Linked DNA regions of Homo sapiens. The protein of the gene in region 4 purifies or fractionates together with the protein of the main gene of each other region. This does not show direct contact. Each region holds a gene or a part of one and is shown on either strand. Other genes may lie near its edges.

What was found.
Region 1: the proteins of CLUH (region 4) and ZDHHC5 purify together in Homo sapiens (co-immunoprecipitation; one large-scale study listed by IntAct). This does not show direct contact.
Region 2: the proteins of CLUH (region 4) and IFT57 purify together in Homo sapiens (co-immunoprecipitation; one large-scale study listed by IntAct). This does not show direct contact.
Region 3: the proteins of CLUH (region 4) and SPAG5 purify together in Homo sapiens (affinity purification with mass spectrometry; 2 studies listed by BioGRID and IntAct, with this or other methods). This does not show direct contact.

What each region holds. Positions count from the first base shown.
Region 1 is NC_000011.10:57,695,283-57,699,113, reverse strand, and holds part of ZDHHC5 (palmitoyltransferase ZDHHC5), read right to left. Parts: intron 3,195-3,831; coding exon 3,071-3,194; intron 2,354-3,070; coding exon 2,241-2,353; intron 556-2,240; coding exon 1-555. UniProt on the Homo sapiens protein: Palmitoyltransferase that catalyzes the addition of palmitate onto various protein substrates such as CTNND2, CD36, GSDMD, NLRP3, NOD1, NOD2, STAT3 and S1PR1 thus plays a role in various biological processes including cell adhesion, inflammation, fatty acid uptake, bacterial sensing or cardiac functions.
Region 2 is NC_000003.12:108,166,925-108,170,755, forward strand, and holds part of IFT57 (intraflagellar transport protein 57 homolog), read right to left. Parts: intron 941-3,831; coding exon 869-940; intron 62-868; coding exon 1-61. UniProt on the Homo sapiens protein: Required for the formation of cilia. Plays an indirect role in sonic hedgehog signaling, cilia being required for all activity of the hedgehog pathway.
Region 3 is NC_000017.11:28,589,026-28,592,856, reverse strand, and holds part of SPAG5 (sperm-associated antigen 5), read left to right. Parts: coding exon 1-875; intron 876-984; coding exon 985-1,159; intron 1,160-3,831. UniProt on the Homo sapiens protein: Essential component of the mitotic spindle required for normal chromosome segregation and progression into anaphase. Required for chromosome alignment, normal timing of sister chromatid segregation, and maintenance of spindle pole architecture.
Region 4 is NC_000017.11:2,701,477-2,705,639, forward strand, and holds part of CLUH (clustered mitochondria protein homolog), read right to left. Parts: intron 3,089-4,163; coding exon 2,886-3,088; intron 2,014-2,885; coding exon 1,842-2,013; intron 582-1,841; coding exon 438-581; intron 262-437; coding exon 137-261; intron 45-136; coding exon 1-44. UniProt on the Homo sapiens protein: mRNA-binding protein involved in proper cytoplasmic distribution of mitochondria.

The DNA.
Region 1 (3,831 bases), on a different chromosome or scaffold from region 4:
GCCCGGGAGTGGGGGTGACTGGCGCAGCAACTTCTCTCGTTCCTGGAGAGAGGCCACAATGTGGCGCGACAGATTGTCGTAACGGACTGGTGAGGGCTCTCGGTGTGTTGGGCCAGTTGGCACCAAACGTGGGTGCCTCTCAGCTTCCCGTTGCTGGGCCAGCCTGGCTGACAGGAAGGGAGAGGTATAGCCTAAAGGTGGGTCTGGCTCAGGCCCTGCCTGCACTGACTCAAAATCAGGGCTGTCTGAAGGTGTGAGCAAGCTGTCATAAGATAGGCTTCCATTGCGTGTCTGGTTGGCCAGGCTCTTATAGGAGGTGGAGGTGGTGCCCTCTGAACGAATGGATTGCAACTGGCCCAGCTCAAAGCCTGTGCCCTGGGCTGACTTGAGGCTGGAGGAGCGTGAGCCACTGGATAGTGGATCGAAGTGAAAACTTTTGCCAAAGGTAGGAGAACGGAAGCTCTCTGGTTCCAAGCTGGGCTCTGAGCGGTAGCTGGGGTGACGGCTGCTCTCTGCAATTGAGGTTGGCTCCTTCAAGCTGTCCCCACGACTCAACTGAGGAAGAAAGTAAAGCAGGCTCTTAGTGCTCCTTTTGTGACAGAAGCTAGACCCCAGAGCTCAAGGAGTTGGTCAAAAAGAGAATTATGTGCCAATAATAAGCTTAGAACTCTTACATGCATTATCTGGGTTAATCCCTCAAGAAAAACTGAATTCAGGCAAATATCATCTCCTTTTCAGATACAGAAAGCAAGACGTAGAAAGGCTGAGTATCTCGCCCGTGGGCAGAACTGGGTTATAAACTCGGATCAAGCACTAATCTATTATGCTATATTGCCCAGTCTGATGAAGGACACAGTATCAAGGAGATTGAGTTCCACGAATGCCAACAATTAGTGAAATGTCCTTTCTTCTGCCTTTTCCTTCCCCTAATCTTCTTTTTTTCCCGTAACAGTTGGCATTTGTTTGTGTGTGTGTGTGTGTGTGTGTGTGTGTGTTTTAAGCCCAGGCTGGAGCGTGATGGTGCAATCTTGGCTCACTGCAACCTCAGCCTCCCAGGTTCAAACGATTCTCCTGCCTCAGCTTCCCGAGTAGCTGGGATTACAGGCGCCCCGCCACCACGCCCAGCTAATTTTTGTATTTTTAGTAGAGACAGGGTTTCACCAAGTTGGCCAGGCTGGTCTCAAACTCCTGACCTCGGGTGGTCCGTCTGCCTCAGCCTCCCCAAGTGCTGGGATTACAGGCTTGAGCCACTGTGCTTGGCCTTTTTTTTTTTTTTTTTTTTTTTGAGGTGTAGTCTCACTCTGTCACCAGACTGGAATACAGCAGTGGGAGCTCAGCTCACTGCAGCCTCCACCTCCCAGGTTCAAGCAATTCTCCTCCCAGGTTCAAGCGATTCTCCTTGCCTCAGCCTGCCAAGTAGCTGGGACTACAGATGCATACCACTACCAGCTAATTTTTTTTTTTTTTTTTTGAGATGGACTCTCACTCTGTCACCCAGACTGGAGTGCAGTGGCGCAATCTCGACTCACTGCCACCTCCACCTCCCAGATTCAAGTGATTCTCCTGCCTCAGCCTCCCGAATAGCTGGGATTACAGGTGCCCCCCCACCACGCCCAGATAATTTTTGTATTTATTTATTTATTTTTTTTTTGAGATGCGGTCTCGCTCTGCTGCCCAGGCTGGAGTGCAGTGGCATGATCTCGGCTAACTGCAAGCTCCGCTTCCTGGGTTCACGCCATTCTCCTGGCTCAGCCTCCCGAGTAGCTGGGACTACAGGCACCTGCCACCATGCCTGGCTAATTTTTTTGTATTTTTAGTAGAGACGGGGTTTCACCATGTTAGCCAGGATGGTCTCAATCTCCTGACCTCGTGATTCACCTGCCTCAGCCTCCCAAAGTGCTGGGATTACAGGCGTGAGCCACTGTGCCCGGCAATTTTTGTATTTTTAGTAGAGATGGGGTTTCACCACATTAGCCAGGCTGGTCTCGAACTCCTGACCTTGTGATCCACCAGTCTCGGCCTCCCAAAGTGCTGGGATTACAGGCGTGAGCCACCACGCCTGGCCTAATTTTTGTATTTTTAGTAGAGACGGGGTTTCACCATGTTGGCCAGGACGGTCTCAATCTCTTGACCTTGTGATCCACCCACCTTGGGCTCCCAAAGTGCTGGGATTACAGGAATGAGCCACTGTGCCTGGCCAGTTGGCATGTTATTACCCCACCTCTTAGAGTACTCAGTACCTTGGCGCTGGAGGAATGCGGCATGGCAGCTGACGTACTGCTGCTACTGTAACCCGGCCGATACTTGTACATGGTAGGTGTCGGGGGGCTGTCCTTGGCCAATAAGCTACTATCTGCAAGAAAAAAGGCCAAGGGGGCACTATTTTACAAGCGGTTTTTTGGTTTAAGAGACAGGGTCTCACTCTACTGTCCAAGCTAGAGTGCAGTGGCACGATTATAGCTCACTGGAGCCTTGAACTCCTGGGCTCCCACCTCAGCCTCCTGAGTAGCTGGGACTGCAGGCATATGCCACCATGCCCAGCTAACTTTTTTAAATTTTTTGTAGAGACAGAGTCTTGCTATGTTGCCCAGGGTGGTCTTGAACTCCTGGGCTCAAGCAATCCTCCTGCGTTGGCCTCCCAAAGTGCTGGGATCACAGGTGTGAGCCACTGCGTCTAGTCTATGAGTTGTTCACTTTATCTGCCTAGGGTTCCTTAAGTACAGGGAGAGGACAAGGTAGGAATAGATATACCCTTCGCTGAAATCAAGACTTTTAAAGACTCACACCAGCCCAGAATTCAGGGTGGGTAAATGCACCAAAAAGGTTCTGTGATGTTCTCTGGTCTGCCTAGAGGCTGACCATTTTCCCGGCAAAAGTCCCATTCACTGCCAATAGCTAAATGGCCTCTCTTCTCTTTCAGTTGCAAAGTAGCACAAGTACCAACTGTTGGGTGTTTAAAGTCACAACACGAGTAATATCTCCCAGCCCTTGCCTGTCTTCCACAGCTCATAAGCAACCTTCTCAATCCTGCCCCTAGTTCTAGTATCTTGCAAATCAAGGCAGCCCTTACCCTCATTAGTAGCCAAGCCGAGGTGTGTTCGCAACCCTGTGTAACGGCTCAGGTCTGGCTTAGGAGGAGGTGGAGGTTCAGCATCTGCAGACTGGCTCTCTGTTATCTCCAGGCTTCCCTTAGACTGGATTGATGAAGGGAGGGAAAATCAGATTTAGAAATTGAGCATTATGGCAACTCAAAGTATTAAATTGATATAAGAGGGAGGTATTTGGGAGTCAATTCTCATGTATTTTTTTTTTTTTTTTGAGACAAGGTCTCACTCTGTTGACCAGGCTGGAGTACAGTGGTACGCATGATCATGTTCACTGCAGCCTGCAACTCCTAGGCTCAAGTGCTCTTCCCACCTCAGCCTCCCAAGTAGCTGGGATTACAGGCACATGCCACCACACCCAGTTAATTTATTTTACTTTATTTTGTAGAGATGGGGGTCTCGCCATGTTGCCCAAGCTGGTCTTGAACCCCTGGCCTCAAGCAATATCACCCCACCTTGGCCACCCTAAATGTTGGGATTATAGACATGAGCCACTGCCTATCATATATTTCTCAACTATACTGGAAGACAAGGCACAAGAATCAGTTTGGGTATAGCATTAGATGAAGAAAAGTTGGGTTTTTTTTTTTGAAATGGAGTCTTGCTCAGTCACCCAGGCTGGAGTGCAGTGGCGTGATCACGGCTCATTGCAACCTCTGGCTCGCAGGTTCAAGCGATTCTCATGCCTCAGCCTCCCAAGCAGCTAGGATTACAGGCATGTGCCACC
Region 2 (3,831 bases), on a different chromosome or scaffold from region 4:
CTCGGCTGCTGATCTTTTCCAAAGTCCTAGTAATTTCATTATGGAGTTTGTCCAAAAATCCCTAGAAATTCCATGGAATTTGCAGATAGAAGAACTCACAAACATATTTTTTCAAAAATATTAAAAATGGGTTACATCTCAATCCATTCTACAAATAATCAACTACATGTGCAAAAGAAGACAGCTTGAAATTTTCAATAGCACAAAATATCTGTGATGAGAAATATTTTAACCACACTTAGAAGAGTTTTAGAATAAAAATGCACCTGGCAGTGTTAGTCAATTCATTTGTCATTATACATACCATAAAATTTATGTGACTATAATTAGCATTATATAACATTCACAATCAAAGTAAGGGAATAACGTGAGTTTCCTATAGCACGATTCAAAGGTGACTGAAATATTCCAGTTGGAAATAGATCCCTAAGCCTATAGCTCTAGCCTGGGACACATAACTTTTCAGTCTAGCTTTGCTTCTTTGTGACATTCTCCAAAGTCCTTGTTTCTGGCAGGACAGCAAGCCTGCGGAGGCTGTAAGTTCTAGACCTTGCTGGTCTGGTGTTCTTTCCTCCTTTAAGATTCAGAGAGGAAAGGATGATGAAATGTTTCTCTCTAATATATGTATTATCTATATATTATACATATATATCTTATATATATACATATATATAGCTTTTATTAATATGTAAGTTAGCTTTCTTTAGTTGGTTTAAATGTAAGGTCAGTTGAAATGTAACACGGTACATTCAATTAGTAAGTTCCTTAAAGGCAAAAATTGTGTCTTTTTATTCTTTCATGTTCTCTTATAACAGGTGTTCCACAGATGAGTAAATGTACATTGATTCACGTAAAGTAATTCATATACCTTGGTCTCCTTTAGAGCAGATTCAATTCCACTTCTGTGCTGGTGCATTTGGTCAACATGGATTCTCCAATCCTACAGGCATAGAGCACATAGAAATAATGTAAAAAATACTACATTTCCATCTTTCCCTACTTCTTGTGAAGTTGTAACCTTTAATTACTTTGGTTCCTGCCCTATTTCAGGTGGGATAGCCCTATTTATAGCTTGCAATCAGATTATAAAGAAATATGTGTAGAGCACTTTAGGATAAAAGGTTCTAAATAAATGTAAATTATTTCACGTGTTCACAGAGTGATGTCTGACAATTTAAATTATTCCTGCACTGCTGGTGGTTAATATTTATGACTACCCATTAAAATGAAAAAAAAATTCTAATTACTAGAAAAGAACTACTTGTTTAAGCAGTAACAATTATGTTTGCCAAAAGCAATTCTGAACTCAAATATCATATATCAAAGATTAGTTTGTCCCTTGGAAATGAAAATGGGGCCCTCATCTTCATGAAGCCTTTTGAGTCCCTTTCTTAATAAAGGAAGTTTATAATGATTACTGGAGTTCATGTATTTTAAAATATCATCTATTACTACTAGACTGATCTGAATTAGTGTGCAAATTTGAAATCTACATCAACATTTTAATTTCCTACAAAATATATTAAAAATATTTCAGTTTACTACAAAGTAATAATTTTTTATTTTATTTTACTTTAAGTTCTGGGATACATGTGCAGAATGTGCAAGTTTGTTACATAGGTATACTATGTGCCCTGGTGGTTTACTGCACCCATCAACCTGTCATCTAGGTTTTAAGCCCTGCATGCATTAGGTATTTGTCCTACTGCTCTCCCTCCCCATCCCCCATCCCCCAACAGGCCTGGGTGTGTGATGTTCCCTTCCCTGTGTTCATGTGTTCTCATTGTTCAACTCCCACTTATGAGTGAGAACATGCGGTGTTTGGTTTTCTGTTCCTGTGTTAGTCTGCTGAGAATGATGGCTCCCAGCTTCATCCATGTCCCTGCAAAGGACATGAATTCATTCTTTTTTATGGCTGCATGGTATTCCACAGTGTATATGTGCCATACTTTCTTTATTCAGTCTATCATTGATGGGGATTTGGATTGGTTCCAAGTCTTTGCTATTGTAAATAGTGCTGCAATAAACATATGTGTGCATGTGTCTTTACAGTAAAATGACTTAAAAACCTTTGGGTATACACCCAGTAATGGGATTGCTGGGTCAAATGGTATTTCTGATTCTAGATCCTTGAAGAATTGCCACATTGTCTTCCACAATGGTTGAACTAATTTACACTCCCACCAACAGTGTAAAAGTGTTCCTATTCTCCACATCCTCACTAGCAGCTGTTGTTTCCAGACTTTTTTGATCACCACTCTAACTGGCATGAGATGGTATCTCATTGTGGTTTTGATTTGCATTGTTCTAATTAACAGTGGTGATGAGCTTTTTATCATATGTTTTTTGGCCACATAAATGTCTTCTTCTGAGAAGCGTCTGTTCATATCCTTTGCCCACTTTTTGATGGGTTTTTTTTTTCTTGTAATTTGTCTAAGTTCCTTTAGATTCTGGATACTAGACTTTTGTCAGATGGATAGATTGCAAAAATTTTCTCCCATTCTCTAGGCTGCCTGTTCACTTGGATGATAGTTTCTTTTGCTGTGCAGAAGCTCTTTAGTTTAATTAGAGGCCATTTGTCAATTTTGACTTTTGTTGCCATTGCTTTTGGTGTTTTAGTCATGAAGTCTTTGCCCATGCCTATATCCTGAATGGTATTGCCTAGGTTTTCCTCTCAGGTTTTTATGGTTTTAGGTTTTACATTTAAGTCTTTAGTCCATCTTGAGCTAATTTTTGTATAAGGTGTAAGGAAGGGGTACAGTTTCTGTTTTCTGTATATGGCTAGCCAGTTTTATCCCTGATGAACATCAATGTGAAAACCCTCAATAAAATACTGGCAAACCAAATCCAGCAGCACATCAAAAAGCTTATCCACCATGATCAAGTCAGTTTCAGCCCCAGGATGCAGGCTGGTTCAACATACACAAATCAATAAATGTAATCCATCACATAAACAGAACCAGTGACAAAAACCACATGATTATCCCAATAGATGCAGAAAAGGCCTTTGATAAAGTTCAACACTCCTTCATGCTAAAAACTCTCAATAAACTTGGTATTGATGGAACATATCTCAAAATAATAAGAGCTATTTATGACAAACCCATAGCCAATATCATACTGAATGGGCAAAAGCTGGAAGCATTCCCTTTGAAAACCGGAAAAAGACAAGCATGCCCTCTCACCCCACTCCTATTCAACATAGTATTGGAAGTTCTAGCCTGGGCAATCAGGCAATAGAAAGAAATAAAGGGTATTCAAATAGGAACTGAGGAAGTCAAATTGTCTCTGTTTGCAGATAACATAATTGCATATTTAGAAAACCCCTATGTCTCGGCCCCAAAACTCCTTAAGCTAATAAGCAACTTCAGCAAAGTCTCAGGATACAAAATCAATGTGCAAAAATCACAAGCATTCCTATATGCCAATAATAGACAAGTAGAGAGCTAAATCATGAGTGAACTTCTATTCACAATTGCTACAAATAAAATAAAATATCTAGGAATACAACTTACAAGGGATGTGAAGGACCTCTTCAAGGAGAACTAAAAACCACTGCTCAAGGAAGTAAGAAAGGCCACAAACAAGTGGAAAAACATTCCATGCTCATGGATAGGAAGAATCAATATCATGAAAATGGCCATACTGCCCAAAGTAATTTATAGATTCAATGCTTTTCCCATCAAGCTACCATTGACTTTCTACCCAGATTAGAAAAAACTACTTTAAATTTCATGTGGAACCAAAAAAAAAAACCCCATACAGCCAAAAAAATCCTAAGCAAAAACAACAAAGCTGGAGGCATCATGCTACTTGACTTCAAACTATGCT
Region 3 (3,831 bases), about 26 Mb from region 4:
ATCGTCCTTGTACCATCTCCACTGGGGCAGCAACAAGACATGATATTTGAGGCCCGTTTAGATACCATGGCAGAGACAAACAGCATATCTTTAAATGGACCTTTGAGAACAGACGATCTGGTGAGAGAGGAGGTGGCACCCTGCATGGGAGACAGGTTTTCAGAAGTTGCTGCTGTATCTGAGAAACCTATCTTTCAGGAATCTCCGTCCCATCTCTTAGAGGAGTCTCCACCAAATCCCTGTTCTGAACAACTACATTGCTCCAAGGAAAGCCTGAGCAGTAGAACTGAGGCTGTGCGTGAGGACTTAGTACCTTCTGAAAGTAACGCCTTCTTGCCTTCCTCTGTTCTCTGGCTTTCCCCTTCAACTGCCTTGGCAGCAGATTTCCGTGTCAATCATGTGGACCCAGAGGAGGAAATTGTAGAGCATGGAGCTATGGAGGAAAGAGAAATGAGGTTTCCCACACATCCTAAGGAGTCTGAAACAGAAGATCAAGCACTTGTCTCAAGTGTGGAAGATATTCTGTCCACATGCCTGACACCAAATCTAGTAGAAATGGAATCCCAAGAAGCTCCAGGCCCAGCAGTAGAAGATGTTGGTAGGATTCTTGGCTCTGATACAGAGTCTTGGATGTCCCCACTGGCCTGGCTGGAAAAAGGTGTAAATACCTCCGTCATGCTGGAAAATCTCCGCCAAAGCTTATCCCTTCCCTCGATGCTTCGGGATGCTGCAATTGGCACTACCCCTTTCTCTACTTGCTCGGTGGGGACTTGGTTTACTCCTTCAGCACCACAGGAAAAGAGTACAAACACATCCCAGACAGGCCTGGTTGGCACCAAGCACAGTACTTCTGAGACAGAGCAGCTCCTGTGTGGGTAAGCGCCCCTATGTCCTTGCACCTCGTGAGTTCCATTACCCTGGACCTTCCCCTCCCATCCCTTCCCCTCCTTTTCTTTTCGTCATGTTCTTCTCTTTCTGCTGCAGCCGGCCTCCAGATCTGACTGCCTTGTCTCGACATGACTTGGAAGATAACCTGCTGAGCTCTCTTGTCATTCTGGAGGTTCTCTCCCGCCAGCTTCGGGACTGGAAGAGCCAGCTGGCTGTCCCTCACCCAGAAACCCAGGACAGTAGCACACAGACTGACACATCTCACAGTGGGGTAAGAAGGTTCCTCTCAAAGCTTGAGGGATCCCAGTGGGGATCCTTGGAATTTAAGCTGAGAAGCTGCCAGAGGGCAAAGGGGACTCCTATCACAGGCTTATACTTAGAACATTTGCAAAAGCTGAGAATCTGGGCAGTCACAATGGCTGATGCCTGTAATCCCACTGCTTTGGGAGGCCAAGGTGGGAGGACTGCTTGAGGCCAGGCATTTGAAACCAGCTTGGGCAACACAGCGAGATCCCATCCCTACAAAAGATTTTTAAAAAATCAGCTGGATATGGTTTTGCATGCCTCACTACTCAGGAGGCTGAGGCAGGAGGATCATTTGAGCCCAGGAGGCTAAGGCTGCAGTGAGCTATGATCATGGGCAAGACAGTGAAACCCTGTCTCTTAAAACAAAAAAGCTGAGGATCTGGAAAATCCCCTTAAAGCTGTGGGTAGTCACTCTACCCCTGGGGTACATCAGAACTTTCCAAAGGAGTGCAAGCAAGGAAACTTTTAAAGGAATTGGTTTTTAGATCATCATCTTCCACAAGTATTCTTTTTCTTCGTTTTTTGCATTGGTAGACTATATTTAATATTTTAAGAAAAATTATGAATAAGCCTAAAACATTTTTTAAAATAATTTTTAATTTTTGTGGTTACAGAGTTAGGTAAATATATTCATGGAGTCCATGAGATGTTTTGATATAGGCATGTGATGGTCAATAATCACATCATGGAAAATGGAAAATGGAGTATCTGTATCTGTCCCCTCAAGCATTTATCCTTTGTGTTACAAGCAATCCAATTATACTTTTAGTTTTTTTTTTTTTTTTTTTTTTTTTGAGACGGAGTCTCACTCTGTCACCCAGGCTGGAGTGCAATGGCCTGGTCTCGGCTCACTGCAACCTCTGCCTCCCAGGTTCAAGCGATTCTCCTGCCTCAGCCTCCTGAGTAGCTGGGACTACAAGCGCATGCCACCCCACCCGGCTAATTTTTGTATTTTTAGTAGAGACAGGGTTTCACTATGTTGGCCAGGCTGGTCTCGAACTCCTGCCCTCATGATCCACCTGCCTCAGCCTCCCAAAGTGCTGGGATTACAGGCGTGAGCCACTGCGCCTGGCCCCTGTTGTTTATGTGAAGAAGATTTCTCAGTGTTTACATCTGTCAGAATGGAAAGGAGTCAGCTGGCATAGTGGCTCACCCCTGTAATCTCAGTACTTTGGGAGGGTGAGGTGGGAGGATCGCTTGAGCTCAGGAGTTCAAGACCAGCCTGAGAAGTATGGTGAAACCTCATCTCTACAAAAAAATACAAAAATTAGCTGGGTGTGGTGGTGTGTGCCTGTAGTCCCAGCTACTTGGAAGGCTGAGGTGGAGGATCACTTGAGGCTAGGAGTTCAAGGCTGCAGTGAACTGAGATCTTGACACTGCACTCCAGCCTGGGCAACAGAGCCAGACCCTGCCTCAAAAAACAGAGTCACGAATTGTTGCTGAACTATTTCTTATTGCTGGAATTATAGTAATCCACAGATATACGAACTAATAAGGGGAAGGAATCTCCATCGATTTCATTAATAGGTGATTCCCAATTAAATTTTGCCGAGCATGTTTATTTTATTAGAAATTATATTACAGTGACTAATATACAACTGATTAAAAGATTTCTCTATCCTAAAGAAAGCTTTTTCACTTTAAAGCCTTCCGGTCAAAGGAATTTAAAGGAAATTTTAATTTAAATTTAGATGAACTTTCATTGTTGTTGCAGAGATGATGGTTAATAACAGATTTTATTTTTATTTTTTGAGATAGTTTCTTGGTCTGTCACCCAGGCTAGAGTACCATGTTGCGATCAGGGCTCACTGAAGCCTCAGCTTCCTTGGCTCAGGTGATCCTCCCACCTCAGCCTCCTGGGTAGCTAGGACTGTAGGTGTATGCCACCACACCTACCTAATTTTTTTGTATTTTTAGTAGAGATGGGGTTTTGCTATGTTGGCCAGGCTGTTCTCAAACCCCTGGGCTCAAGTGATCTGCTAGCCTTTGCCTCCCAAAGCACTGGGATTACAGGTGTGAGCCACTGTGCCCAGCTAATAACATACTTTAAAGCATAAAAATATATTACATTAGGCTGAAATTCTGAGAAAAATAAAAAATATATGTTCAAAGAGAAAAAGGGATGACATAATAAAATTTCTGACTGCTAAGAAGAGCTTTTTCTTGTATTTTTAAAAGATAGCAACTAGGTATCTCATCATTTTGGTGTATGTAGTATTTATGCCACTGGATATATTTAAGAGTAATCTAATAATTTTATTTTAGGCTGGGCATGGTGGCTCATACCTGTAATCCCAACACTTTGGGAGGCCGAGGCGGGAGGATCACCTGAGGTCAGGAGTTCAAGACCAGCCTGGCCAACATGGCGAAACCCCGTCTTTACTAAAAATACAAAAATTAGCTGGGTGTGGTGGAGGGCACCTGTAATTCCAGCTACTTGGGAGGCTGAGGCATGAGAATCGCTTGAACCCGGGAGGCAGAGGTTGCAGTGAGCCAAGATCGCGCCACTGCACTCCAGCCTGGAGGATAGAGTAAGACTCTGTCTCAAAAAAAAAAAAAATTATTTTAAATTGTCAATATTGGTAATATGCTGGACATTACAGCCTTTGCAACAATTTAAACTTAAGGGTACTTAGT
Region 4 (4,163 bases):
GGGTTCCATCCGCTCATGGTGAGTACTTTCAGGCACTGCAAGGGCTTCGGGAGCGGCCGAGTCTGAGGGGCCAGGCCTCTGGTGTGGGGCCTCCACCCCGCCAGGGACCCTCTTCCTCCCTCCCCCAGGATCCTACCTTCCAGTCACGGTTTTGGGGCTGCAGGGGACACAGTGGCCGCTCCCGGCTCCCTGGCAGGATGTACTCGGGTGGTGTGCAGTCGATGGGGTCCATCTCCAAGCCCTTCTTCCGCTTCCCGCTGTCTGAGGGACCCGAGGCTGGTGGTCAGCACAGGGCCACCCAGGGCCAGCTGTCTCCCTACCTCCTGATGGCCGTGGTCCGGGTGCCTCAGGCCCAGGCCCCTCGGCCCCTTCTCCAGCCCCCCACCTCCGTGCTCCCCGCCCTTTGGCCCAATCCCCGGCCCCAGTGCCTCCCGCACCTCCCAGGTCGCCGTCGGTGAAGACACTCAGGAAGGACAAGGAGTTGCAGTCAACCCCGTTGAAGGCATCGGATGGGTCCAGGCTCTTGAGCAGGTCTCGGACATGGCGCACGTGGATGCGGGCCTCACGCACCGTGTACGGCTCTGTCAGGAAGGCAGGGAGGGTATGGCGTTACCAGGGCCCTGCACCCTGAACAACCTGCCCAGCACAAAACAGGTTTTGGAGGTGCTAACACAGTGGTTTTAATTTTCAACTTTAGGTTTCCGTTTTCAAATTCCACTGTGAACACATAAGCTGGAGTTCTGGTTTTGACACCACAAACACACACACACACACACTCTGCCTACTGGTGAGCAGGGATCTTTGTTTATAAAGAACTTTCTGCCAAATGCCTCTGAAGCACACACAGGCCTCAGGCGTCCACAAGGCTGCCTGCTTTTGTGCGCCAGTGTGTCGGCTGGGCAGGGCTTTTGGAGCTGTGGGACTTCCACACCACAGCCTTGCCCTGCTCTCCCGAGGCAGCCTCATGTAGGGGTGGCCTGAGGACTTTCCAAGGCCCCCAATGTCAACACTGCCCCTATGTGGTTTCATGGGATTTTAATGGCAGTTCTTTTGGTGGAGGGGAGAGGTTCCGTGATCAACTGTGGGCGCTGTTGAGCTACAGACCTTTTCCGTCACTGCTCTCAACAGGCGGACAGGCCCTGGGGTGGAACCCAAGCAGCTTCTACCCAGAAAACTCGAGGCCACAGACCAACCGGATGGCACCTCCCCGTGCCCGACCTCCCCACTCTAGGGCTAGGAAACGTTTGGGACTTCTCATGGATCTCTACAGAACTGAACTGCGCTGACTTCACGCCCTGGGATGGTACTGCCTGATTTTTTTTTTTTAGAATCACGGCTCTGTTCTTTTGTTTTGTTTTTTTTTTTGAGACGGAGTTTCGTTCTTGTTGCCCATGCTGGAGTGCAGTGGCACGATCCGGGCACACTGCAACCTCTGCCTCCCAGGTTCAAGTGATTCTCCTGCCTCAGCCTCCCGAGTAGCTGGGATTACAGGCACCTGCCACCACGCGCAGCTAACTTTTTGTATTTTTAGTAGAGATGGGGTTTCACCATGTTGGCCAGGCAAGTCTCCAACTCCTGACCTCAGGTGATCCACACGCCTTGGCCTCCCAAAGTGTTGGGATTACAGGCGTGAGCCACCATGCCCAGCCCACGGCTCTGTTCTTTAACCCATGGGCCGTGAAGTTGGCAGATATAGGTGTGCTGGCCTGAGAAGCAGATCTGTGCTCCAATCCTGCCTCCATGAGCTCATCCGTGACACAGGGACCCTGGCATGGATGGTGCTGCCTGCCTCTGCCTCCGTGGGCCCTCCCCCGGGCAGGCTGTCCAACTTCCAGACCAACCTTCCACCACACGCAGCACAGAGCCCTCCTGCAGCCCCTCGACGCTGCGCAGCTCCGAGAAGTGGTCCAGCACGTTGCCATCCAGGTGCAGTGAGAAGCAGGTGCGGTGACACGTGTCCTCCCGGTCCATGAGCACCTGGTGAATCTCCTGCACCATCTCCTGGGGGGACACCTGCAGGGAGAAGGCCCCGCCCACCCCGGTGAGAGAGCACGTAGCGGGGAGAGAAGGCCCCAACCGCCCCGGTGAGAGGCCACGTAGCGGACAGCAAGGACAATATCCCCTTGTCCCCAGCCCAAAGTACCTTGGTCCCCAGAATAAATGCCCCAAATACTCGAATATCGGCTATCCCACTTTCTGGCTTTTAAATCCAGGCCATGTCCACACATGCCATGCCCTGTGTGTGCAGCCTGGAGCCTGGCCCACCGACTCGGCCTGCAGACCCAGAGCAATGCCCGAGCAGAGAAGGGAGATGAAGAACAGCGGGACAGAAGACGGCAGGCTCGCCCCCGGCCTTGCCCAGTGCTAAGGTGCCTGGGGCAAATGGCTTTCCCCTTCCAGAAGGGGTGCTCTGGGGCCCAAGCCTGCGGGTGCCGAGACATACGACGACCCTGTCTCGTTCCCCACTGAGTCACCGGCTTGCAAGACCTCCACGCTGGCTCTGCCCTTGGAGATAACCCAATACTACCCTCCCCTCTGGCAGATGGTAAAATCACGGCCCAGAGAGAGGTGACTTGCCTGAGGGCACAGAGCAAGAGGCTGGGGAGTCCTGGGATGCCAACACTTCCCAGCCACTATCACTCCCCTCCCCACATAGGGCTGGCAGGCCCAGCTGGTTGCTGTCCTCTAGCAATGGGGCAACGACCTGACCCTGGGCTCGATTCCCACGTCCACCACGCTAGCTGAGTGACTCTAGGGAGGGCACGGGATCCTCAGTTTCCTGCCACAAAATGGGGCCGGTAGGAGCACGAGCAAGGCTGAGCTTTCCAGCTCACCCTCCCCAGCAGGCTCAGGCCTGGCCCCCAGCACCCGTTCCTCCATCTTACCTGCAGGGAGAAGGGCTCGATCCCAGGGGCGAGGATCTTCACAGAAAAGCCCGTGTCCTGAATGACAATGACTTCCTGGCCGGTGGTCTCATCTCCCGGGCCGGCCTCGTCAAGCCCATTTTCCCTGGGTGGCTCGGCCGCCGCCGCCTCCTTCTTCAGGCTCTCTGGGCAGTCCCCGTTTAAGAGCATGACTGATGGCAGCTCTGCGGGTGACAAGAACGGGTCAGAATCAGGCAGCCTCGCTGGTCGGCGGGGCTGTCCGCCTGACCCCACACGGGGACACGTGCCTTCTGGAAAGGCATCTGCATGCCCTCGAGAGTCCCAGCCTCACGGTCGCGCCTCGCCCTCCGTGCACCTGCAGGCCACTTCCACACCCAGCCGCCCCTCCCAGCCACTGTTCCCTGGCCCACTGTGGTATGGCTTGCACCTGAACCCATGTCCCAAACCACTCTCCCCAGGGTCACCAAAGCCACCCTTCAAGCCAAGCCCGAGGGTCTCCTCCGGCCCTAACACACCTAGCTTCCCAGCAGCAGTTCCCCTCTTCCTCTCCTCTTCTCTGACCCCACACAGTGCCCTTGCCCCTCCCTCTCCAGCTCCATCCTCTTCCATCCCTCCTGAGCTGTGGTCCTGGGCTGCAGGGGGGCTGCAGGGGAGTGCCTAGGCCCAGCCTCTCCTGTTTCTGACCCCACCCCCTCCCATACACTCCTGCCCCGTGGCTCACACGGCCAATCCTGTCCTCTCTCCAGCCTTTTGGACCAAGGAGACCGCTGCCTCCCAGGCATCAACATGTGGCTGTCCCTGAGGCATCACTGAAGCCTCGTCTTGCAGGGACAGAACTCATCTTCCTCCTCAAACTGGCACCTGCTCTATCTAGTCACCCACCCTAAATCTCCCAACCCACCCACGGGACCCGGCCTCTGCAGCCACTGCCCTAGGGCAGGCATTTCCTCTATTTCAGCAGTGCCACCTGCAACCCTCCTAGGAAGCCCACTGCTTACAAGACCAAGCTTCTCAGGCCAGCGCTCTCAGGCACCCACCTGAAGTCAGCCTCAGCTCCTGCCTGCTCCCTGCTGAGGTCTAAGGACACCACACCATGCAAGCCTGGTACCGCCCACAGCCCTCCCACCGCCCTCCCACCGCTGTGCTTCTGTGTCTGTGCTGCCCCTGACATCCCATTCTGTACAGCAAACACTGACTCACCCTTCAAGGCCTAGGAGAAATAAACCTTTTCCACAGCCTGCCCAAATGACCCTTAATGGCAGAATCACACTCCCTCCC